Linked DNA regions of Homo sapiens. The protein of the gene in region 1 purifies or fractionates together with the protein of each later gene. This does not show direct contact. Each region holds a gene or a part of one and is shown in the gene's direction. Other genes may lie near its edges. The genes, in order: CSNK1G2, GINS1 and NISCH.

Region 1 (7,939 bases):
AGTGGTGCCATCTCGGTTCACTGCAAGCTCCCCCTCCCGGGTTCACCCCATTCTCCTGCCTCAGCTTCCCGAGTAGCTGGGACTACAGGAGCCCACGACCATGCCCAGCTAATGTTTTTGTAATTTTAGTAGAAACGGGGTTTCAGCGTATTAGCCAGGATGGTCTCGATCTCCTGACTTCATGATCCGCCTGCCTCGGCCTCCCAAACTGCTGGGATTACAGGTGTGAGCCACCGCGCCTGGCCAAAAAGATTTCTTTCAAAATATGACTGCTCACTGACAACGCACCTGGTCACCCAAGATCCCTAGTGGAGACGTACACGATCAGTTTCCGGCCGGGCGCGGTGGCTCACACCTGTGATCCCAGCACTTCGGGAGGCCAAGGCGGGCAGATCACGAGGTCAGGAGATCGAGACCACAGTGAAACCGCGTCTCTACTAAAAATACAAAAAATTAACCGGCCGTGGTGGCGGGCGCCTTTAGTCCCAGCTACTCAGGAGGCTGAGGCAGGAGAATGGCATGAACCCAGGAGGCGGAGGTTGCAGTGAGCCGAGATTGTGCCACTGCACTCCAGCCTGGGCGACAGAGCGAGACTCCGTTTCCAAAAAAAAAAAAAAGATCATTGTTTCCATCCCTGCTAGCACAACATCCAGCCTGTAGCCTGTGGATCAATGAATGAATGAATGACTCGGAAATCAAGATGACTCCTTGACATGTCATTCATTCATTTATTTATGCATGACAAGGTGTCCCACTGTCACCCAGGCTGGAGTGCAGTAGCACGATCTTGGCTCACTGCATCCTCCACCTCCCGGGTTGAAGCAATTGTCTTTCCTCAGCCTCCTGAGTAGCTGGGGCTACAGGTGCGTGCCACCATGCCCAGCTAATTTTTATATTTTTTCATAGGGGGTTTCACCATGTTCCTCAGGCTGGTCTTGAACTCCTGAGCTCAAAGCAGTCTGCCCGCCTCAGCCTCCCAAAGTGCTGGGACTACAGGCCTGAGCCACTGTGCCTGGCCAAGTCTTAGTGTTTTTGAGGCACGGTCTCACTGTGTCTCCCAGGCTGCAGTGGAGAAGCAGAATCACAGCTCACTTTAGCCTCCACCTCCCAGGCTCAAGCGATCCTCTCACCTCAGTCTCCTAAGTAGCTAGGACCACAGGTGCGCACCGCCATGACTGGCTAATTTTGTTTTTATTTTTGTAAAGATAGGGTCTCCCTGTGTTGCCCAGGCTGGTCTTGAACTCCCGGCCTCAAGCAGTCTGCCTGCGTCAGCCTCCCAAAGTGTCGGGGTTACAGGCAGGAGCCACCGCAGCCGCCCATGACTCTCATTATTGAGAAATACATTTGTAAGGCTCTAGGTGCCTGTAGGTGCCGTGGAGAGCAATTCCTCTGATGGAGCTGGGGAAATTGGGTAAATTGAAACCCCCGGAAAGGCTTTGCCGTTCTAGAGGCTGTGAAGGACACGCGTGATCCATGGGAGGAGGTAACATGTCAGGATGAGCGGAAGTTTGGAAGAAGTTGGTCCCAGGCCTGAAAGATCACTGTGAGGGTTCAGGACTTCAGTGGAGGAGGGACTGTAGAGGTTTTAGAAGCAGCAAGAGAACTAGAATGAGAAGGACTTGGAGATGTGACTGCATTGTCGCTGTCTCGCGAGAAAACTTTAACACGTGAGGAGTTGCCTCTGAAGGGTGAGCAGGGGAGTTGCTTCAGTTGCGCTCTAGTCCCAGTGAAGATTCTGTGAACCTGGGGGTAATGAGGACAAAGAACTTGGAACAGCCCGGAACCTCGGTTGATGAAGCCGCGGCCGGGTTGAGAGGACCGACTGCAGTTCTGAAAGACGTTCTGCTGTGGGTAATCAATGCTATCAGACAGCATCACGCCCCACAGAGAAATCTTTCATGAAAGGAAGAGTCCATCGCTGTGGCCAACTTTTTTGTGGTCATAGTTTAAGAAGTTGCCCCAGCCTCCAGCAGCCACCGCCCCAACGAGTCAGCCGCCGTCCACATTGAGGCAAGACCCTTCTCCGGGGAGATTAGGGCCACTCCCGGTTCCCATGATCATTACCATTGCTTAGCAGTAAAGTATTTTTATTTCTTTATTATTTATTTAAGATGGGGTCTTGCTGTATCCCCCAGGCTGGAGTGCAGTGGTGCGATCATAGCTCACTGCAGCCTCCGCCTCCTGGGCTCAAACGATCCTCCCGCCTCAGTCTCCCGAGTAGCTGGGACCACAGGCTTGCACACCACGCCCCGCTTAATTAAAGTGTGTCCTTTGATTAGACACAACGCTACTGCACACTTCCTAGACCACGGTATACTGTGAACGTAACTTGTGTGTGCACTGGGAAACCAGAACATTCGAGCGGCTGTTGCCGTGCGGAACCCAAGGCCTGTGATCCCCACAGGGTGTTTCTGGCACCGGAACGCAGGGGCCACATCCAGGGGGGCAGTGCTTGTGACGCCGGTGCCTTCGTTTCTGATGTGGCTTACTCAGCTGGGAGTTCCTGTCCTAACATTTTCGGCGATGGCTGTGCACCCACGGCCCCTCTTCACCCGCGGCCCCTACGTCCTGCCGGTTGGCAGGAAACCTCTTCCCCTGCACATCTGGGGCACAGCAGCAAACTGTGGTCCCCCTTCTTCAGTGAGGGTGGGGCTTCTGTCTGTCTGGAGCCCTAGAATGGGGCCAGGGGTGGCTGGGGCCTGGGTCAGGGAGGACCCGGCAGGATCTGTGCAGACAGGCAGGTGGCTGCGGTGGCTCCCGGTGCAGGGTTCTTGGCCTCCTGGGCGGGTACCTGGCTTGAGGGCGACGAGGTGACAGCCGCGTCCCTGGGGTTGCACCACCCGAGCGTCCAGTTAACACCACAGCTGCCACCCTTCAGTTCTGCAGGTGGGGCTCCTCCCTCCTCCCCAGGCTGCCCCCACCACCCTTCAGTTCTGCAGGTGGGGCTCCTCCTTCCTCCCTCCTCCCCAGGCTGCCCCCGACCACCCTTCAGTTCTGCAGGTGGGGCTCCTCCTTCCTCCCTCCTCCCCAGGCTGCCCCCGACCACCCTTCAGTTCTGCAGGTGGGGCTCCTCCCTCCTCCCTTCTCCCCAGGCTGCCCCCGACCACCCTTCAGTTCTGCAGGTGGGGCTCCTCCCTCCTCCCTTCTCCCCAGGCTGCCCCCGACCACCCTTCAGTTCTGCAGGTGGGGCTCCTCCCTCCTCCCCAGGCTGCCCCCGACCACCCTTCAGTTCTGCAGGTGGGGGCTCCTCCCTCCTCCCCAGGCTGCCCCCACCACCCTTCAGTTCTGCAGGTGGGGCTCCTCCCTCCTCCCTCCTCCCCAGGCTGCCCCCGACCACCCTTCAGTTCTGCAGGTGGGGCTCCTCCCCAGGCTGTCCCTGACCACCCTTCAGTTCTGCAGGTGGGGCTCCTCCCTCCTCCCTCCTCCCCAGGCTGCCCCAGACCACCCTTCAGTTCTGCAGGTGGGGCTCCTCCCTCCTCCCCAGGCTGCCCCCGACCACCCTTCAGTTCTGCAGGTGGGGGCTCCTCCCTCCTCCCCAGGCTGCCCCTGACCACCCTTCAGTTCTGCAGGTGGGGCTCCTCCCTCCTCCCTCCTCCCCAGGCTGTCCCGAGGCTCCTTGCTGGGGACCGTCCTGCCTCCCGTCGGGGCCTGCGCTGAGACTGGGCTCCATGCCAGCCGGGGCTGGCTGGCCCCCTCGCTCCAGAGAGCGACCTGCACAGAGTCCCCTCAGCCATGAGCCCCTGTCCAGACACGGCGTTTCTCTGTGGGTGGCAACAGGCTCTGGGGCCCTCAGCTCTGGGCTCGGGAGCATTTAAGGTGGTGCAGACTCAGCGAGGGGCTGTGGGCTGGGGTCCCACCATCCCGGGAGCAGGGACTGCGTGTTCCTTCTCAGGACCAGAGGCTTCTGTCTTTTCCCCTGGGGTAGAAGTTTGCTGCCTGCCCCGTGCCCAGCCTTGCTTAGGTGGCTGTTGGCTCCGCTGGTCCCTCAAGCCCCGCCATTCCCTCCTCAGCTCCGCTCTGCACCGAAGGGGATGGGTCCGACCCAGCCTGGCATCATCACAGCCTCGAGTGGCGTCCAGCCTGCCCCGCTCCACCAGTGGCTGCTGGAGAAGAACCCGAGCCTGGGTCAGGCCCTGGGGGCTCCTGCATCAGTGCCCGGCTCTCCGGGGCCTCCTGCCCTCCGGCCCACTCTCCCCGCTCTCAGCATCAACCAGTCGCCATGGGCAGGGGCAGCTCGGTGGCTCCTGTGTCCCTGCCTCGGGCCTGCCTGCTGTCATCTGCCTCCCTCCCTCTTTCCCAGAGCGGCCCTGGGCCTGGATACGGGGACTGTTGTGTGGCCCCTCTGTGTCTGGGGGTGCGACTGCTCCCCTGGCTTCAGGATCCTCAGGGCTTCTACCCGGGATTGGCAGTCATGCTCTCCTGGCAGTACACTCTCCCACCTGTGCCACCCACCCACCCACCCACCCATCCCGCTTTACAGAAAGCCCCCTGAGCCCTACCCTGTTCGTCCCCAGGCAGCCACGCCGAGATCTCTGGCCTCTGATGTCATGTGATGTGTGCTTCCCAGCTGGGTTCCGGGCAGGGACGGTGCTCATCATGCCCCGGCCTTCAGAGCTCCTTCCAGCCCAGCAGTCTCCTGGCTGTGTCCTCTGTGGCCTCCGCCCCGTGTCCTCAGTGGCCCCGCGGGGGCCTTGCCGGTGCTCACCTGTGCCTCTGTTTCTCTGCAGCTGTGAGCCGTGAGCTTTGAGGCGGTGGGATGTGTCAGCAGAATGTCTCCTGCCCCCGAGAGCGACCCCGAGGCCACTGAGAAGAGCAGCGCGGCCTGGCCGGCCCGAACGCCTGCGTCTCAGTAGCTGGGAGCCACGGGCCCACGCCCGCCCACCGGCCGCAGTGATGTTCTAGCCACAGAGGAGCCAAGACCTCAGGTTTCCAGAGACTTGGGATTTGCACGGCAGCAGAGTCACCGTGGAGAGGCCAGGGTATCACAAACTTATGGATTTTGACAAGAAAGGAGGGAAAGGGGAGACGGAGGAGGGCCGGAGAATGTCCAAGGCCGGCGGGGGCCGGAGCAGCCACGGCATCCGGAGCTCGGGGACCAGCTCGGGGGTCCTGATGGTGGGCCCCAACTTCCGCGTCGGCAAGAAGATCGGCTGCGGCAACTTCGGGGAGCTCCGCCTAGGTGAGGCCCTGCTCGGTGGTAGGTGGGGTCGGGAGGCTGCTGGCAGGGCCGCCCCGAGTCACCGGAGCCTCTGGTGGGGCCGCCCGGGGTCACTGGAGCCTCTGGCGGGGCCGCCCCATGTCACTGGCAGGTGCGTTGAATCATCAGTCCGTCGTGGTGCGAGTGCCACTTCCCTTCGAGGAGGTTCTGTGGGGAGAGTGGGTTTCTGGCCCTGTCACCTTTTCGGGAAACAGTTCTGTTGGGAGGCAGGTGGCCCAGAGCAGGCCAGGCCACGCCGCAAGGAGCCCGATGTTAAGTTGTGAATGACTTTCATGGCCCATGTGCACGCTGGGCGAAGCCCCGGCTTTAACGGCAGGTGCCTGCCCGGCACTCAGCTCGTGGGAGGTCTTGGCCAGCCCGGAGCTGGCGTCAGGTGGCTGGAGTGACTGTTCTGTGGTGATGATACTGCTGTGTGCCACTCCCAGCTTCACCATGTAAAAGGCCGCACCTGGCCCACCTGGCTCCGTCCCTTCTGCTCACACCAACCTCTCCCGGGTCGGGGTCTGATTGCCCGGGCAGGCGTGAGGAGCAGGGCCGAGGACTGAGCCTCTCATTGGCCAGGGGTGCCTTCCCTGGGGTGGGGGTGCCTGAAGATGACCATCAGGCCTGGGGGAGCTCTGAGCACCTTTGGGGCCGTTCCCAGTCTGTGATTAGCTGGGCCAGGGAGCTGAATCATCCCCGGAAATGTGGTTAAATTTATTGCTGGTGCTGCCGGAGCTCCTGCGGGAGGGCATTTGGCGTCTGTTGCTGGGGTTGTCCGGGGAACCCAGGTGCACCCCCAGTCAGTGTCTGTCGTGGTGGGAATCAGGGTCCCTGGGAAAGAGCGCAGGATGGGCAGGTCCGAGAGGCCACGGCAGTGGATCGGCCTCACGTGGGCACCCATGGCAGGCGGTGCCCATGGCACCCATGGCAGGCACTCAGCCCGATGAGGTTGTCAGATGAGGGAAACAGGCCCACGCAGTGGTCATGATGTGGCTGCATCTTCAAGAGCGGCCGCCCAGGGGCGCAGGAGCATGGGCTGTGGCGGCCTGGACCCCAGGCATGTTTTGTGGCCCTGCTTCCCACCTCCTGCCTCACTTTACCCACCTGTTAAATGAGGATGAATGGTAGTTGCCACTCGTGGGCAGAAGGGTTCAGCAGGCAGTTATGCGGCAGAAGTGTGTGTCCTATGAGTCAAGCAGCTTCTCCCAGGCGAGGGCAGCTGTTGGGGTCACTGTTGGCTGTTTCTGTGTTCCCATTGGTTGCACCCAGGGCCCCAGGAGGCCGGGGTTTGAGACCCCACCCGAACCAGATCCCACCCCAGCCCTTGGGGAGGCTGCTGGGATTCCACCTCTGCGCAGAGGCTGGGCTTGGGCCACGAAGCCTCACTGCCGGTCCGACGGCCTGTGGCTCAGGAGGCCCGGGCTCCGTTTCTCAGCCAAGAGACTGAGCTTTTCCCAACAGGAGCTGTGGCCTCCCAACCCCGTGTGTGTGTGCACGCTCAGACACACGTGCAGACACATGCAGACATGTACACACGTGCCCACAAATGCACATGTGCACACTAAAGCACACGCACACAGGCGCACACAGCCACAACCACGCATACACAGGCACACAGGCTCATCTGCACACACATGCCTGGCACAGCCCCGTGACCTGCAGCCTGCGGGGTATGGCTTTTGGGAACCCAGATGGCTATGTGGGTCCTGTCCTTGGGCGGCGGTTGCAGGCTGCTGAATAGTGCAGGTCCCTGTAGGCAGATGAGAGTGACGTGGGTGATGCCAGCTTTTTTTTTTTTTTTTTTTTTGAGACGGAGTCTCGCTCGGTCACCCAGGCTGGAGTGCAGTGGCGCAATCTCGGCTCACTGCAAGCTCCGCGTCCCGGGTTCACGCCATTCTCCTGCCTCAGCCTCCCGAGTAGCTGGGACTACAGGCGCCCGCCACCACACCCGGCTAATATTTTGTATTTTTAGTAGAGATGGGGTTTCACTGTGTTAGCCAGGATGGTCTTGATCTCCTGACCTTGTGATCCACCCACCTCGGCCTCCCAAAGTGCTGGGATTACAGGCGTGAGCCACTGCGCCCGGCCTGGTGACGCCAGCTTTTACTGAGTTGCGGTTTGCGCTCTCTTCAGCCTGGCATTTTGGGCGCTGTGTGCTTCGCGGGCAGCCGCACATCGTGGTTTCTCAGGGGTGCCGGGAGGCCGTCCATCGGAGGACACACCAGCCCTTCTTCATCTGCTCCCAGCGCAGGGACGCTTGGCTGTTTCTGGATTTGGGCCCTTCTGAATAGAACTAACTGCCCAAATAGAACTGAATAGCACTGGGCTCCTCGAGCACTCCACGTCCCCAGCACTCAGGACTGTTGGTGGCTTTGATGTTGAGCCTGTTGTGGACTCCGGTTGTTGAATGTTGTTCCGTTGTCTAGAATGTTCTAGAATGTGTCGTTTTTTCTGTTTTTAAGGTTTTTATCTTTGATTTAAAATATTGACTATGCTCTCCTTAGATGAGGCTTTCTGTTTTTATCCTGCTTGGGATCCACTGACTTCTTGGATCTCTGTGTTGGTACTTTTTCAAATTAACTTTGGAAAAATGTGAGCCATTATTTCATGAAACGTTTTTCCATCTCAGCTTTGCTTTGCTTTGTTTTGTTTTGTTTTTGAGATGGAGTTTCACTCTTGTTGCCCAGCCTGGAGTGCAGTGGCACCATCTCGGCTCACCACAACCTCTGCCTCTCGGGT
Region 2 (7,939 bases), on another chromosome or scaffold:
TTAACAATTTTTATTATTTTGCCATATTTTTTTCATCGTGTTTCACTTGTTGGTGCCACACTATTTAAGTGCATCACGGTCTTTCACTACTGAATACGGTAGTGTTCTTACTATTTTTTCTTTGTCTTAGAAATAAGGACCTTTGGCCAGGCACAGTGGCTCATGCCTATAATCCCAGCAATTTTGGAGGCCAAGGCGGGTGGATCATCTGGGATCAGGAGTTCGAGACCAGCCTGGCCAACATGGTGAAACCCTGTCTCTACTAAAAATACAAAAATTAGCTGGGAGTGGTAGCGGGTGCCTAATCTCAGCTACTTGGGAGGCTGAGGCAGGAGAATTGCTTGAATCTGGGAGCCAGAGGTTGTAGTGAACGGAGATCGTGCCATTGCACTCCAGGCTGGGTGACAAGAGCAAAACTCTGTCTCAAACAAAAAAAGGCGGGGGAAAGAAAGAAATAAGGACCTTAGGGACCTTTTTCCCAGGACTACTGTGCTGCTGTCACACGTGGAGGAGTGGACAGTGCCTTCAGGTCGACTCTCAGACTGTGTTCATGTTCTTCTTGTTTTCCCTAAGATGTCTGTTTAGAGCTGGTGTGTTTGCATCAGGGGCCAAATGAAGTCCACACGTGATCCCCCGTTTATTCTTATGCCACCCAATACCTTCTTGATGTCCTAGGTATGACCGCTTGCTTCGGATCAGAGCACTCAGATGGGAATATGGTAGCGTCTTGCCAAATGCATTACGATTTCACATGGCTGCTGAAGAAGTGAGTTAGCATTGTTCAAGTTTATAAATTTTGAAAATGCTAAAGTTCTGGCATTGTTCTATAATAGTGTTTATTGGTATTCCTCTTTTTGTGTTTAATGTCTGTTTTTCCCCAATTTTTGGCTGGTATTTAGTATATAATGTGAGGGGAACTATGTGGTGAGGAGTAATTCTAAATCATATGTGGAAAATTCTATTATTACTTAACAAAATAGAGTCCCATGATGTTACTTATTAGTGATCCATCAGTGGGATTAAAAAACTGGCATTATTATTTGGTGATATTCCATGAAATGTTTACATGTGTATATATACTTTCCTAATCAAAATTCATATTTGCCTAGTCACTGAGGCAAAGAACTAGCCCATTATTTAAGGACATAGGATTGGAGTCAGGTGGGCTTAGGTTCAAATCTCTGCTGTCTAATATTGAGCAAGTCACTTGACCTGTTGCTGTGCCTAAATTTCCTTGTTACAGGATGAAGATCATATTACCTATCTATTACAGGTTGCAATGACTTTTGACACTAACTACCTGCAGTTATTGTCAACTAAGGAAGCTCACACAAGCTTTGATGTCCAGAGTGTTTATTGGGGCTTCATTACATAGACATGACTGATTAAATTGCTGGCCCTGTGATTGAGTTCAATCTTCATCCCTCTTCCCCTCCCTGGAGGTCAGACTGACATCAGGAGGGCCAAAGGCCCAATACTTTAATCACATGGTTGGTCTTTCTGGGGTAGCCAGTCCCAACTCTGAGTCATCTTGTTAGCACAGACTATGTAGGGGTTCACCACGAGTCACCTGAGTAGCACATACTCTCAGGGCACATCATAAATAACAAGACACTCCTATTACTTGAGAAAGTACAAGAATTTAGAAGCTACCTCCCAGGAATGAGGGAGAGAGGCCCACCAAATTCTTTATTCTACAACAGTGTTATTACAAGGCCTATCACAGGGTTACTTCAGGTGGTCCATGTGGAGCACAGCATAGGATGGCACTCAATAAATGTTAACAGTTACTACATTACAGTTGCATAGCACAGAGCTTAAGAAAGAAAATATTCAGTGCAGCAAACCACCATGGCACATGTATACCTATGTAACAAACCTGCACGTTCAGCACATGTATCCCAGAACTTAAAGAAAAAAAAAAAACAAATATTCAATGTGTTTGCCATTAGATTCTGCACATTTTTGAAAGTGATCTATTTGTTGTCATAGCTTCATTTTCATTCTGTTCATTTTCTGCATAAATAAATGAGTAATCTCTACCTCAGATTTACCAGTGACTACGAAATTGGTAACATGTTAGTACCTCACTTTATGCTCTTTGTGTTCAAATCTACTTATATTAATTGAACTTTGGGGTACTTACTGTGTATTATGGTGAGATGAACAGAACATTATGTTTCTCTAACGACAGTAGCTTTAATGATTTTTCTCATACAATATTTTAGATTAATTTTTTTGTGTATTTTTTGAGATGGAATCTCGCTCTGTTGCCCAGGCTGGAGTACAGTGGTGCATTCTCTGCTCACTGCAACTTCCGCCTCCTGGCTTCAAGCAATTCTCCTGCCTCAGCCTGCCAAGTAGCTGTGATTACAGGTGCGTGCCTCCATGCCTGGCTAATTTTTGTATTTTAGTAGAGACAGGGTTTCACTATGTTGGCTAGGCTGGTCTCGAACTCCTGACCTTGTGATCTGCCCCTCTTGGCCTCCCAAAGTGCTGGGATTCCAGGTGTGAGCCACAGCGCCTGGCGATTAATATGTTTCTTACAATTTAGTAAATGATTACAAGCTGCATTTATTCAAGCACATCAATTAGATTTCATATTGGGCATTGTTTCTGTAAGGGTGGCACTTTTCTGTGATTACTGAGTTCCCAAAGTCAGTTTCTATTTTAATGAAATATAACAATGTTAACAGCAAATAAAATATATATATATTTTTTTGAGATGGAGTCTCGCTCTGTTGCTCCAGCTGGAGTGCAGTGGCACGATCTTGGCTCACTGAAACCTCTGCCTCCCGGGTTCAAGCGATTCTCCTGCCTCAGCATCCCGAGTAACTGGGATTACAGGTGCCCACCACTACACCCAGCTAATTTTTGTATTTTTAGTAGAGACGGGGTTTCACTGTATTGGCCAGGCTGGTCCTGAGCTCCTGACCTGATGATCTGCCCACCTCAGCCTCCCAAAGTGCTGGGATTACAAGTGTGAGCCACAGTGCCTGGCCTTATATAAAATAATATTAATGGGTCTAGAGATTAAGTTGTTTGAGAATAGTGAAACCTGAGATAGTTTCTTGGAAGAGTTTGTGAATTACTGCAAAACTGGCAAATGACTTCCTTCTACCCCAGTGACCTCATCTATAAAAAGGAATATACCAGCCTGGCCAACATGGTGAAACCCTGTTTCTACTAAAAATACAAAGATTAGCTGGGTGTGGTGGTGTGCACCTGTAATCCCAGCTGGTCAGGGAGGCTGAGGGCAGGACAATTGCTTGAGCCTGGGAGGTGGAGGTTGCGATGAGCTGAGATCGCACCACTGCACTCTGGTCTGGGAGAGAGAGTGAGACCCTGTCTCAAAAAAAAAAAAAAAGAAAAAAAGAAAAAGAATAAAAGGAATATACATGGTCTCGTTCTCTTAGTAGTGATGTTTTGGAAACACTGAAGGATGAGAAGAGATTAATACAGATAAACTCTGTAGTAGACCACAGACATCTCTGCTTGAGCAATTGCATCGTGGCAACTGCATCAGCCATTTTGGACCAGTAACAAAGAATATTTCCAGGTATCCCTGACAGCTTATAGGAGCCTATGAGGTCTGAATGTCATCATAGGTATCTGTATTACCCAAGGATAGTGCTTCAATGGGTGACTGAAGCACATGGGCTTGAGTCTGCCACCTAAATTCAGATCCCTGCCTTGTTAACTCTGAGCCCTTTGGTAAATTATCTAATCTCTCAAAGCTTCAGTCCTTCATGAATAAAAAGAAAATAATAATAGTAGTTACATCATGGGGCAATGAAAAAGAGAAAATAATGCATATTAAAATTTTAGCAAATTCCTGGTATATAGTAAGCACTTTATTACTGGGAGTGATGATTTCAATATTGTTGACTCAGGCTAGCAATAAAAGTAAAAGCAGAGCTAAAATAAGGTTACTAACATGAAACAGATGATCATGTGTTAATGTTTAGAGAAAACACCATTGAAAGAATATGAAAGCACACTGATGATAAGTAAAAATCTTATTATCTGATTTCAAAGTAGTAACATCTTTTGTTTTCAAAGTAGTAACATCCTTTATGTTTTTAAAATAATAACATCTTTTGTTTTCAAAGTAGTAACATCTTTTATGTTTTTAAAATAGTAACATCTTTTGTTTTTTGATTTCCTAAGTTTCTGTTTAGAATCTTTAAGCCACTAACATGAGAGATAGTGAAAATAGGTATTTTTTTCTTTCCTATTAATATTTTTCCATAAGGAAAACTAAAAAATTTGTGACTATATCAGTATGTTCTTTTGTGGAAGTAACGTGCTTATTCTACATTTCCCTTTTATCTGTGAATGAGACTGAATGAGGGTAACACCCTCATTGTCAAAACAGCTTCTGATTTTTCTTCCACTTCATCTTCTCTTTGGGGTCTGTTACACTCTTCTCAGTGGAGACAAAGTAGAAAAGACCACAGTGGAAACACCCATGTTTGACTCATTTGGCAAGATCTCTCTCAGAGAACTTTTCTTCATACTTATCAATACAAAATATCATTTTTTATCCTTTATATTATAAAAAACAATGCAGTTTTTACCACCTTGGCATACATACCTTTTAAATCTTTTAAAATCACTTAATTTAACCATTTGCATTGTGAAATCTAACATAAAAACAGGCACATGCAAACACATCTGAAAAGGTGCAGAAAACGAAGATGTACAGCCCAATGATGTGTCACTGAGGAATTCCCATGTATCCATCACCCTGTTCAAGAAAGAACATTGCTCCGGAACCTTTGTGTCCCTCCTCCCAGTGATCACTACCCTCCTGACTTTTGTGCAGACTAATCACTTCCTTATTTTTAAAAATCTTATTGCTCTGGATGCAGTGGCTCACACCCGCAACCCCAGCACTTTGAGAGGCCAAGGTGGATGGATTGCCTGAGCTCACGAGTTTGAGACCAGCCTGAGCAACAGGGTGAAACCCTATCTCTACCAAAAAAAGAAAAAAAAAAACAAAAAAAAACTTAGCTAAGTGTGGTGGCATGCGCCTGTGGTCCCAGCTACTCAGAAGGCTGAGGTGGGAGGATCACTTGAGCTTTGGAGGTAGAGGTTGTAGTAAGCTGAGATTGCGCCACTGCACTCCAGCCTGGGTGACAGTGAGACCCTGTCTTAAAACAGCAACAAAAAAACTTGCCATTTACCACCTAAGCATGCATTTCTAAACACTATAATTTAGTGTTGCCCATTTTTTGAACTTTATATAGATTCATGCAGTATCCTTTAATGATTGATGACTTTCACTAAATGTAATATTTTTGAGATTCTAATCTGTTGATATATTAGCAAGAGCTCATTCCTTGTTTTTTATTTTGTTTAGACGGAGTTTTTTGCTCTTGTTGCCCAGGCTGGAGTGCTGTGGCGTGATCTTGGCTGACCGCAACCCCCGCCTCCCGGGTTCAAGCGATTCTCTTGCCTCAGCCTCCCAGCTATCTGGGATTACAGGCATGCACCACCACGCCTGGCTAATTTTTTGTATTTTTAGCAGAGATGGGTTTCTCCATGTTGGTCAGGCTGGTCTTGAACTCCCGACCTCAGGTGGTCCACCTGCCCCAGCCTCCCAAAGTGCTGGGATTACAGGTGTGAGCCACCACACCTGGCCGAGCTTATTCCTTTTTAATGCTGAATAGTATTTCTGGTTTTTTTTTTGTTTTTTTTGAGAGACAGTTTGACTCTGTCGCACAGGCTGGAGTGCAGTGGCATAGCTCGGCTCACTGCAACCTCCGCCTCCCTGGTTCAAGCAATCCTCCTGCTTCAGCCTCTGGAGTAGCTGGGACTACAGGTGTGTGCCACCATGCCCGGCTAATTTTTGTATTATTAGTGGAGGTGGGGTTTCACCATGTTCACCAGGCTGGTCTTGAACTCCTGGCCTCAAGAGATATGCCCACCTTGGTCTCCCAAAGCTGGGATTACAGGAGTGAGCCACCGTGCCTGGCCTACCCAGAGGTTATTAAGGTTATTAAGATATTTTTCTTTTCTTTTTTTTTTTTTTTTTTTTTTTTTTTTTTTTTTGAGACGGCATCTCACTCTGTCGCCCAGGCTGGAGTGCAGTGGCTCAATCTTGGCTCACTGCAAGCTCCACCTCCCGGGTTCAAGCCATTCTCCTACCTCAGCCTCCCAAGATATTTTTCTTCTCTCTTTTTTTTTTTTTTTTTCCGAGACGGAGTCTCTCTGTTGCCCCCAGGCTGGAGTGCAGTGGCATGATCTCAGCTCACTGCAAGCTCTACCTCCCGGGTTCATGCCATTCTTCTTCCTCAGCCTCCCGAGTAGCTGGGACTACTGGCGCCCGCCACCACGCCTGGCTAATTTTTTTGTATTTTTAGTAGAGACGGGGTTTCACCATGTTAGCCAGGATGGTCTCAATCTCCTGACCTCATGATCCACCCGCCTCGGCCTCTCAAAGTTCTGGGATTACAGGCGTGAGCCACCGTGCCCGGCCTTTTTTCTATGTAATCTTTTAGGAGCTATATTTTACCTTTTACAAAGAGATCTACAGTATTGGGATTAAGTTTTGTGTATACTACAGGAGGCATGCTTCATTTTGAATATAGATATTGAGATGACCCAGCACCATGTATTGAACAGATCTGCCTCTCCCATCACTGTGTGCATGGTGCCACCTTTGTCATACATTGAGTGTCAGTATTCCTGTGGATTCTGAATGGGAGGACTTTTTCTTCTGTTATGCTAGTCTATCTGTTCTTATACCAATTCCACTGTTGTAATTACTGTAACTATATAGTATAGTTGGAGCAAGTTCCCATCTTGTTCTTTTTTGAGAGCATTTCAACTATTAGCCCTTTGCACTTCCATGTAAATTTTAGACTCAGTTTGTCAGGTTCCATTTTAAAGAAAGTTAAGATTTTGATTGAGATTGAATTGAATCTATAGATTGTTGACGTTATTACAATATTGAATCATCCAATCTGTGAATATGGTATTATTTAGGTCTTTCATTGTTTTCAACTTTTTTTTTAAAATAGCAGATTTACTGAGATATGATTCATACACTGTGAAGTTTACCATCTTAAATTGTACAGTGCAGTGGTTTTTAGTATATTCAGAGTTGTTGTGCATCCAATACCACATTCTTATTTGAGAATATTTTCATCACCCTACAAAGAAGCCCTGTCCCCTTTATAGTTACTCTATATTTTCTTCCCTCCTCCCAGCTCCTGGAAATCCCGAATCTACTTTCTGTCTCTATAGATTTACCTATTACAGGTTTTTCATATGAGTAGAATCATGCAATATGTGGCCTTCTGTCTTTCATGTGGTAATGGCAATACGTTTCAGAACTTCATTGTTACTTATGGTTAAATAATGTTCCATCATATGGGCACATATCCATTCATCAGCTGGTGGACATTTGGGTTTTCTTAACAATGTTTTATAGTTTTCAGAAATAGCATCAATGCAGAGTTTGAAGATATAATTCTGAAATGGCGTCTTTTTCATGGTTCTGTTTCTGGTCAAAGATTCCTAAGGTTTATTATTAAGTATGCTGAAATGTAAGCTCTCTGAGAACAGAGATTTTTGTTCACTTTATTGAATGATTCATTGTAAGTACCCAGACCAATGCCTATATCATAGGAGGCAATTAATATTTTAGCATTAATGAATGAATGGTCACAACAGTGATTTGTGTTGGGATGTGTACTGTTTTCGAATGGATGATATTCAGTGTGTGCAAGTTTTCTTAGAATTTTGTCAAATGATCATCTCTATGTTTGCAGATGGAGTGGTTTAATAATTATAAAAGATCTCTTGCTACTTATATGAGGTCACTGGGAGGAGATGAAGGTTTGGACATTACACAGGATATGAAACCACCAAAAAGCCTATATATTGAAGTATGTATATCTTTTTAAAATGCATTTTTCTTTAATGTGTA
Region 3 (7,939 bases), on another chromosome or scaffold:
TTTAATATCTGGCTGTGATTCCATCTCTTTTTTTTGCTTTTGGAGATGCTGTCTTTCTCTGGGTCATTTGCAGCATAACTGTTTTAAAGACACACCGCTGCCCTGATTGGTTTTTACTCTGGCTTGGAAAAGATGGCAATTTTAGGGGCAAAAGGTGTTACTTTTCTGAATGTCTCTAAAGTCTCCAGATGGAATTCCTTGTCTAGAATTGTATTGGTATTTCTAATGCTAATTGGATTTAAAGAGGCCAAATCCCAGGTGCACTAGTTTGGTCACTGATTTTGGTACTACTGCAGGGAGGGGCTGTGCAAGTGCTGACAAGCGCCTGCCCTCAAGCTTCTTGCCTTGGTCTTACATAGGCACAGAGCCTCTTAGTCTGTGGTTGATGTGCTTATGTTTTTTTACAGCTCGTTGCAGAGAGAAAGATTGATAAAAATCTGCTTCCGCCCAAAAAGATAATTGGGAAAAACTCAAGAAGCTTGGTGGAGAAGAGGGAGAAGGATCTGGAGGTCTACCTCCAGAAGCTCCTGGCTGCCTTCCCTGGCGTGACCCCCAGAGTACTGGCCCACTTCTTGCATTTTCACTTCTATGTAAGTTCCTCATCGGGTTTTCACCTGTGCCTGCAAACCCACAACTGCCAAACTTGAGGCAGCAAACCAGGGGAGACCTCAGCTTTGAGGTGGGCTGGGGTTTGACCCTAGGTTAGAAGATGGAGGAACGTCACCCTGGTTAGGAATGCATTGTGGCCAGAAGCATGTTAGTTGACAGATTTGCCGTAAATTAGACTAAATGTGGCCACAGAGATGCTTTCCTCCACCACAAGGCATTTTGTTTAGCAAAAATGGCCTGTGGGTGTTTAAGCTAGGTTTCCATCCAGATGGATGAGGCTGGATTAGAAATAGCTGACACCTGGGATAGACTATTGTTGAGTTGTTGGTGCATAGCCCAAAACTAATTAAGGGATTAGTCTGTGATGGTGGAATATCACCATCTTGGGGCGTGTCATCAGGGTCCGCGCTGCCAGGGTGCTAAGGTTGAGGGTGGACACCTTCCTGTGATGGGAGAGTGTGTCATAGAACAGCTCTGTACTCCGTCCTTGAAAGAGGAACAACTTTCATAGGTTGCCGGTGACAGAATGCGTTGTCAGACTTTAAGAAGGGCACTTAGGCAGTGTGAAACCACAATATTTGTGCTTTTGAGACGGAGTCTTGCTCTGTCACCTAGGCTGGAGTGCAGTGGTGCGATCTCGGCTCACTACAACCTCCGCCTCTTGGGTTCAAGCAATTCTCCTGCCTCAGCCTCCCGAGTAGCTGGGACTACAGACTTGCACCACCACACCCAGCTAATTTTTGTATTTTTAGTAGAGATGGGGTTTCACCATGTTGGCCAGACTGGTCTGGAACTCCTGACCTCAAGTGATCTGCCTGCCTCAGCCTCCCAAAGTGCTGGGATTACAGGCGTGTGCCACCGCACCTGGCCAAAACCACAATATTAAATAGCAGTTCTATTTATGAGAATTTCTTCTAAGGAAAAATCAGGCAGCCGCAAAAAGGATATATGAACAAAGGTAGTCATTCCAGGATTGTAACAAAATAGTAAGGACAACCCTAAAGTCTAGTAGAAGAGGTTAAAAAAAAAAAATCAGGCCAGGTGCAGTGGCTCATGCCTGTAATCCCAGCACTTTGAGAGGCTGAGGTGGGCAGATCACTTGAGGTCAGGAGTTCAAGACCATCCTGGCTAACATGGTGAAACCCTGTCTCTACTAAGAATACAAAAATTAGCTGGGTATGGTGGCAGATGCCTGTAATCCCAGCTATTTGGGAGGCTGAGGCAGGAGAATCGCTTGAACCCAAGAAGCAGAGGTTGCAGTAAGTCGAGATCATGTCACTGCACTCCAGCCTGGGCAACAGAGTGAGAGTAAGACTTCATCTCAAAAAAAAAAAAAAAAAAAAAAAAAATCAAAGGGTACAGCCAGGCTGAGCACAGTGGCTCATGCCTGTGATCCCAGCTCTTTGGGAAAATAAAACAAAAAAGAAATCTGCAGCTCCACCATCATTATCCCAGCAGCACACCAGTCTTCCCAGCAGACACTGTCTCAAAAAAAATGCAACTTTCTTAAGCAGTATCCAACTGTATGGCTGTACTATTTTTTTTTTTTTTTTTTTGAGACAGGGTCTCACTCCATTGCTCAGGCTGGAGGACAGTGGCCTGATCATGGGTCACTGCAACCTCAAACTCCTGGGCTCAAGGGATCTTCCTGCCTCAACTTCCCAAGTAGCTGGAACTACAGGTGCATGCCACCACACCCAGCTAATTTTAAAAATTTTTTTGTAGAGATGGGGTCTTGCAGTATTGCTCAGGTTGGCCTCAAACTCGAACTCAAGCCATCCTCCCACCTCTGCCTCTCAAAGTGCTTAGACTGTAGGTGTGAGCCACTGCACCTGGCTGACTATGGTCTCATTTTTACAAAAAACAAGTTGATATGGACATATTTGTCTAGGAAAATTCTAGAAGGTTTACGTATACCAAAATGCTAAGAGTAGTTTTCTCTGAGTGATAGATTTTCAGATAATTTATATTTACTTGTTTTCCTTTTATATGATGAAGACAGGGAAGAATCCACTCCCTTTTCAGGCTCACCTTGAAGTAACCTGTGGATTATGGTCCTAAAAGCCCAGCTGTATTTAAAATACAACTTTCTTGGCCAGGTGCAGTGGCTCACGCCTGTAATCCCAGCACTTTGGGAAGGCCCAGACAGGCAGATCACTTGAGGCCAGGAGTTCGAGACCAGCCTGGCCAACATAGCGAAACCCTGTCGCTACTAAAAATACAAAAATTAGCTGCGCGTGGTGACTCATGCCTGTAGTCCCAGCTACTCAGGAGAGAGGCATGAGAGTCGCTTGAACCTGGGAAGGGGAGGTTGCAGTGAGCCGAGGTTATGCCACTGCACTTCAGCATGGGCCACAGAGACTCTGTCTCAAAGAAAAAAACAAAAACAGAAGAAACAACTTCCTTAAACTCTTTTCAGAGTAAGACAGTTGAACCTTTCTTGGATCACTAAAGAGCCTAGAAATTTGGTGGCGAGTGCTAACCTGGGGCCACTGAGCTTGGCAGGGACAGGTGGAAAAGTAGATAGCATTCACAGATGGGACCTGTGTATATGCTTTGGATTTTATTTAGCATATACCAGCAAGTATAGGGTTAGCAACATACCCTTTCGTAAACATATTTTTATACTTTCTTATGTGAGAAAAAATTTGCATTCCTTATGCAAGTCTTTCAGATAAACTTTACTGGTTAGTATTTTAAGAAATAATGTACTTTAAAGGCCGGGCGCAGTGGCTCACGCCTGTAATCCCAGCACTTTGGGAGGCCGAGGCGGGTGGATCACGAGGTCAGGAGATCGAGACCATCCTGGCTAACACGGTGAAACCCCGTCTCTACTAAAAATACAAAAAATTAGCCAGGCATGGTGGTGGGCTCCTGTAGTCCTAGCTACTCGGGAGGCTGAGGCAGGAGAATGGCGTGAACCCGGGAGGCAGAGCTTGCAGTGAGCCAAGATCGTGTCACTGCACTCTAGCCTGGGCGACAGAGCAAGACTCCGTCACAAAAAAAAAAAAAAAAGAAATATTGTATTTTAAGAAAGCTTTGGTTAGCCATTTAGGGATGAAACCTGACATGCAGTCCTTTGACGGTATTAATTCCTTGCTTGAGACCTATGCCTTTGAGGAGAGGAGGTCTCGCTGGCTGCCTCACGTGTGCCTGGCTCTGAGGGTGGAAAGGCCTGGACTGCTCTTTTGAAACTGGTTTGCCTGAGATGTGCCTGGGGCCGGCTACATCTGGTTCTGGTTTGAGGCAGGCTCCGCTACTTGTAGAAGTTTTGACATATTTGGAATTAGTATTATCAAACAGGTCCCTAGGTTATATAAATCCTAGGATTTAAAAAAGCAATTGAACCCATCGTTGGATTAAACCCACAGTTGATCAGCCATAGCACTGTTGACATTTTGGACTGGATAATTTGTTTCTGTAAGGAGCTGTCCCATGCATTGTTTAGCAGCACCCTGGCTTCTACCCACTGGATGCCAGTAGCACTTCCCCACCCAGCTATGGCAACTAAAGATGTCTCCAGACATTGCCAAATGTCCCACTGGGGGGCAAAATTGCCCCCCACTTGAAAACCACTGGATTAGATCTTCATTTGGGGCCTAAAGATTTGTCAGCCTTTTCTCCAGGCTGGGAGCTCTCTGGGGAATGTTTCTCTTAACTTTTATACTGTCTGTATCCTCTCTGAAATTGTTCCACATGTGTTCTGCCTCTTGTGTTGCTGACATTGGATAGGGTGGACCCAGGGAACCCTATTTGGCTATGGTGTGAATTTTTTTATTTTTATTTTTTGAGACGGAGTTTCGTTCTTACTGGCCAGGCTGGAGTGCAGTGGTACGATCTCGGCTCACTGCAACCTCCACCTCCCAGGTTCAAGTGATTCTCCTGCCTCAGCCTCCCGAGTAGCTGGGATTACAGATGGCCCGCCACCACACCCAGCTAATTTTTTGTATTTTTAGTAGAGACGGGGTTTCACTATGTTGGTGAGGCTGGTCTCAAACGCTTGACCTCGTGATCCACCTGCCTCAGCCTCCCAAAGTGCTGGGATTACAGGCATGAGCCACCACGCCTGGCCATGGTGTGGATTTTTAAAAATTGAGATATAATTTACATACCATAAAATTAACTTTTTAATGTGTACAATTCAGTAGTTTTTAGTATATTCACAAAGTTGAGCGACCATCACCACTATCTAATTCCAGAACATTTCATCAGCCCAAAAAGGAACCTGTACCTGTTAGCAGGAGCTTCCCATCCCTCTGTCCCCCAGCCCCTGGCAGTCACTAATCTACTTTCTGTCCTTATGGATTTGCCTGTTCTGGACATTTCATATAAATAGAATCATACAGTGTGTGGCCTTTTGTGACTGGCTTCTTTCATTTAGCCTTATCTTTTCAAGGTCCGTTCATATTGTAGCATGAATCCATTGGTCCTTTTATGACGGAGTAATAGTGTATTATTTGGATATGCCACATTATGTTTATTTATTAGCAGTTGATGGATGTTAGGTTTGTTTCCATTTTTGGCCATTGCAAATGATGCTGCTATGAGCATTTGTATGTTAATTTTTGTGTGAACTTATGTTTTCATTTTTGTTGGATATATAGCCAAAAGTGGAACCTGAGTTATATGGTAACTATGTTTGACTTTTTGAGAAACTAACAAATTGTTCTCCACAGTTGTTGCACCATTTGACGTTTCCATCGGCAGTGTATAGGTTCTAATTTCCCCACATTCTTGCTTAACACTTCTTGTCCATTTTTTTTTAAATCTTAGTTGTTCTGGTGGGTGTGAAGTGGTATCTCATTGTGGTTTTAATTTACATTTCCCTAATGACTAATGTTATTGAACCTCTTTTTTTTTTTTTTTTTTTTTTTTTCTGAGACAGAGTCTCGCTCTGTCGCACAGGCTGGGGTGCAGGCATGTGATCCCGGCTCACTGCAACCTCTGTCTCCTGGGTTCAAGCGATTCTCGTGCCTCAGCCTCCCGAGTAGCTGGGACTACAGGCGTGCACCACCACGCCTGGCTAATTTTTGTATTTTTTTCATTAGAGACGGGGTTTCACCATGTCGGCCAGGATGGTCTCGAACTTCTGGCCTCAAGTGATTCGCCCACCTTGGCCTCCCAAAGTGCTGAGATTACAGGTGTGAGCCACCACACCTGGCCTGAGCCTCTTTTCATATGATATTTGGCCATTTGTGTATTTTCTTTGGAGAAAAGTATCCAATTCTTTGTCTTTTTAAAAATCAGATTGGGCCGGGCGCGGGTGGCTCATGCCTGTAATCCCAGCACTTTGGAAGGCTGAGGTGGGCGGATCACTTGAGGCCTGGAGTTCGAGACCAGCCTGGCCAACATGGAGAAACCCTGTCTCTACTAAAAATACAGAAATTAGCCGGGCATGGTGGTGTGTGCCTGTAATCTCAGCTCCTCGGGAGGCTGACGCACAAGAATGGCTTAAATCTGAGAGGCGAAGATTGCAATGAGTGAGACCACACCACTGCACTCCAGCCTGGGTGACAGAGTAAGACTGTCTAAAAAAACAAAAAAAACAAAAAAAACAGATTATCTTTGTTGTTGAGTTGTAAGAGTTCTTTATATATTCTGGCTACTAGACTTTTAGAAACATGCAAATACTTTTTCACATTCTGTGAGTTGTCTTTTTTTTTTTTTTTTTTTTTTTTTGAGACAGATTCTTGCTCTGTTGCCCAAGCTGGAGTATAGTGGCGTGATCTCGACTCACTGCAACCTCCACCCCTGGGGTTCAAGCGATTCTCGTGCCTCGGCCTCCCAAGTAGCTGGGACTACAGGCGTACGCAACCACGTCTGGCTGATTTTTGTATTTTTAGTAGAGATGGGGTTTTACCATGTTGGCCAGGCTGGTCTTGAACTCCTGACCTTAGGTGATACACCTGTCTCAGCCTCCCAAAGTGCCGGCATTACAGCCTGAGCCACCACATCCGGCCTGCCCAGCTAATTTTTCTATTTTTAGTAGAGACAGGGTTTTACTATGTTGGCCAGGCTGGTCTCGAACTCCTGACCTTAGGTGATCCACCTGCCTCAGCCTCCCAAATTGATGGGATAACAGGCGTAAGCCACCATGCCCGGCCATCTTTTCATTTTCTTGATGGTCTTCATTGAAGCACAAAAGATTTAGATTTTGATTAAGTTCAATTTATCAATTTCTTTGGTCACTTGTGTTTTGGTATCATACATGAGAAACCATTGCCCAATCCAAGGTCACAAAGATTTATAACAATATATTCCTGTATGGATTTTGTTTGTTTTTTGAGACAGGGTCTTGCTCTATTGCCTAGGCTGGAGTGCAGTGGCACCATCTCGGCTCACTGCAGCCTCAACCTCCCAGGCTCAAGCACTCCTCCCACCTCAACCCCCCAAGTAGCTGGGACTACAGGCATATGCCACCGTACTTGGCTAATTTTTGTACTTTTTGTGGAGATGGGGTTTCTCCATGTTGCCCAGGCTGGTCTCGAACTCCTGGGCTCAAGTGATCCACCCACCTCGGCCTCCCAAAGCGCTCGGTTTACAGGCGTGAGCCACCACACCCAGCCTGCAGTGTGGATTTTAATAACAAGGAAAGAAAGCACTACTTGTTTACCAGCCCACTTTAGGTGGGAGCGCAGGGGTTGCCGCCTGTATGAGTGAGGGGCACACTGTGGCACTGGCCTGTTGCTATGCTGCTCTTCAGATTGCTGTGTCCTGACCCTCCTGGACGCGTGGTGACAGGCCTCATCCCAGAACCCCTGGAACAGAGGTTTCCAAACTCAGTGAAATGGAATCCCATCCGGAATTCTAGCACACCATGTGGGCCGGGACCTCCAACTGTGGTGGACTTGGAGGCAGGCAGAGGCGAGTTTATCTCCCACCCCTACTTCCCAACGGTTTAGTCCAAGTCAGTCATTTAACCTGCCTGTGAGCTGGAGGCTGGTGAGCTGGGGTCCTTGTGAGGCCTGCAAGAGACTGTGCAGTGAAGGTCAATGGCTTAGAAGAGTGTTGGGCCTGAGGTTAGGGCTGACCATGTGCTAGCCATTACTAGGTGGTTCGGGAAAGAAAAGGAATTCATTTCTCTTGAAAGGTGTTTATATTGTTGTCTTCTTTTAAAGTTAGTTGGCTAGAACAAAGATCCTTTTCAAAATTTGGAATCAGGGGCTATGTTGAACTGTTACAATCTTAGCATTGGCTTTAGCATCCAATTTATTTCCATAATTTGTTTTAGTTGCAAAGTACTGAGGCTGTGAATTACAACAGATTTTCTTTTGAACTTACAGTCTTGCAACTCTCTTCAGTTAAAGCTGAGGTTTGAATCCATCAATGG

What was found.
Region 2: the proteins of CSNK1G2 (region 1) and GINS1 purify together in Homo sapiens (affinity purification with mass spectrometry; 2 studies listed by BioGRID and IntAct, with this or other methods). This does not show direct contact.
Region 3: the proteins of CSNK1G2 (region 1) and NISCH purify together in Homo sapiens (co-immunoprecipitation; 2 studies listed by BioGRID and IntAct, with this or other methods). This does not show direct contact.

The regions. Positions count from the first base shown.
Region 1 is NC_000019.10:1,964,781-1,972,719, forward strand, and holds part of CSNK1G2 (casein kinase I), read left to right. Parts: intron 1-4,010; exon of another isoform or gene 4,011-4,125; intron 4,126-4,727; 5' UTR 4,728-4,992; coding exon 4,993-5,179; intron 5,180-7,939. UniProt on the Homo sapiens protein: Serine/threonine-protein kinase. Casein kinases are operationally defined by their preferential utilization of acidic proteins such as caseins as substrates. It can phosphorylate a large number of proteins. Participates in Wnt signaling.
Region 2 is NC_000020.11:25,417,430-25,425,368, forward strand, and holds part of GINS1 (DNA replication complex GINS protein PSF1), read left to right. Parts: intron 1-675; coding exon 676-766; intron 767-2,254; coding exon of another isoform or gene 2,255-2,376; intron 2,377-3,416; coding exon of another isoform or gene 3,417-3,543; exon of another isoform or gene 3,544-3,559; intron 3,560-7,781; coding exon 7,782-7,898; intron 7,899-7,939. UniProt on the Homo sapiens protein: Required for correct functioning of the GINS complex, a complex that plays an essential role in the initiation of DNA replication, and progression of DNA replication forks.
Region 3 is NC_000003.12:52,458,255-52,466,193, forward strand, and holds part of NISCH (nischarin), read left to right. Parts: intron 1-407; coding exon 408-590; intron 591-7,939. UniProt on the Homo sapiens protein: Acts either as the functional imidazoline-1 receptor (I1R) candidate or as a membrane-associated mediator of the I1R signaling.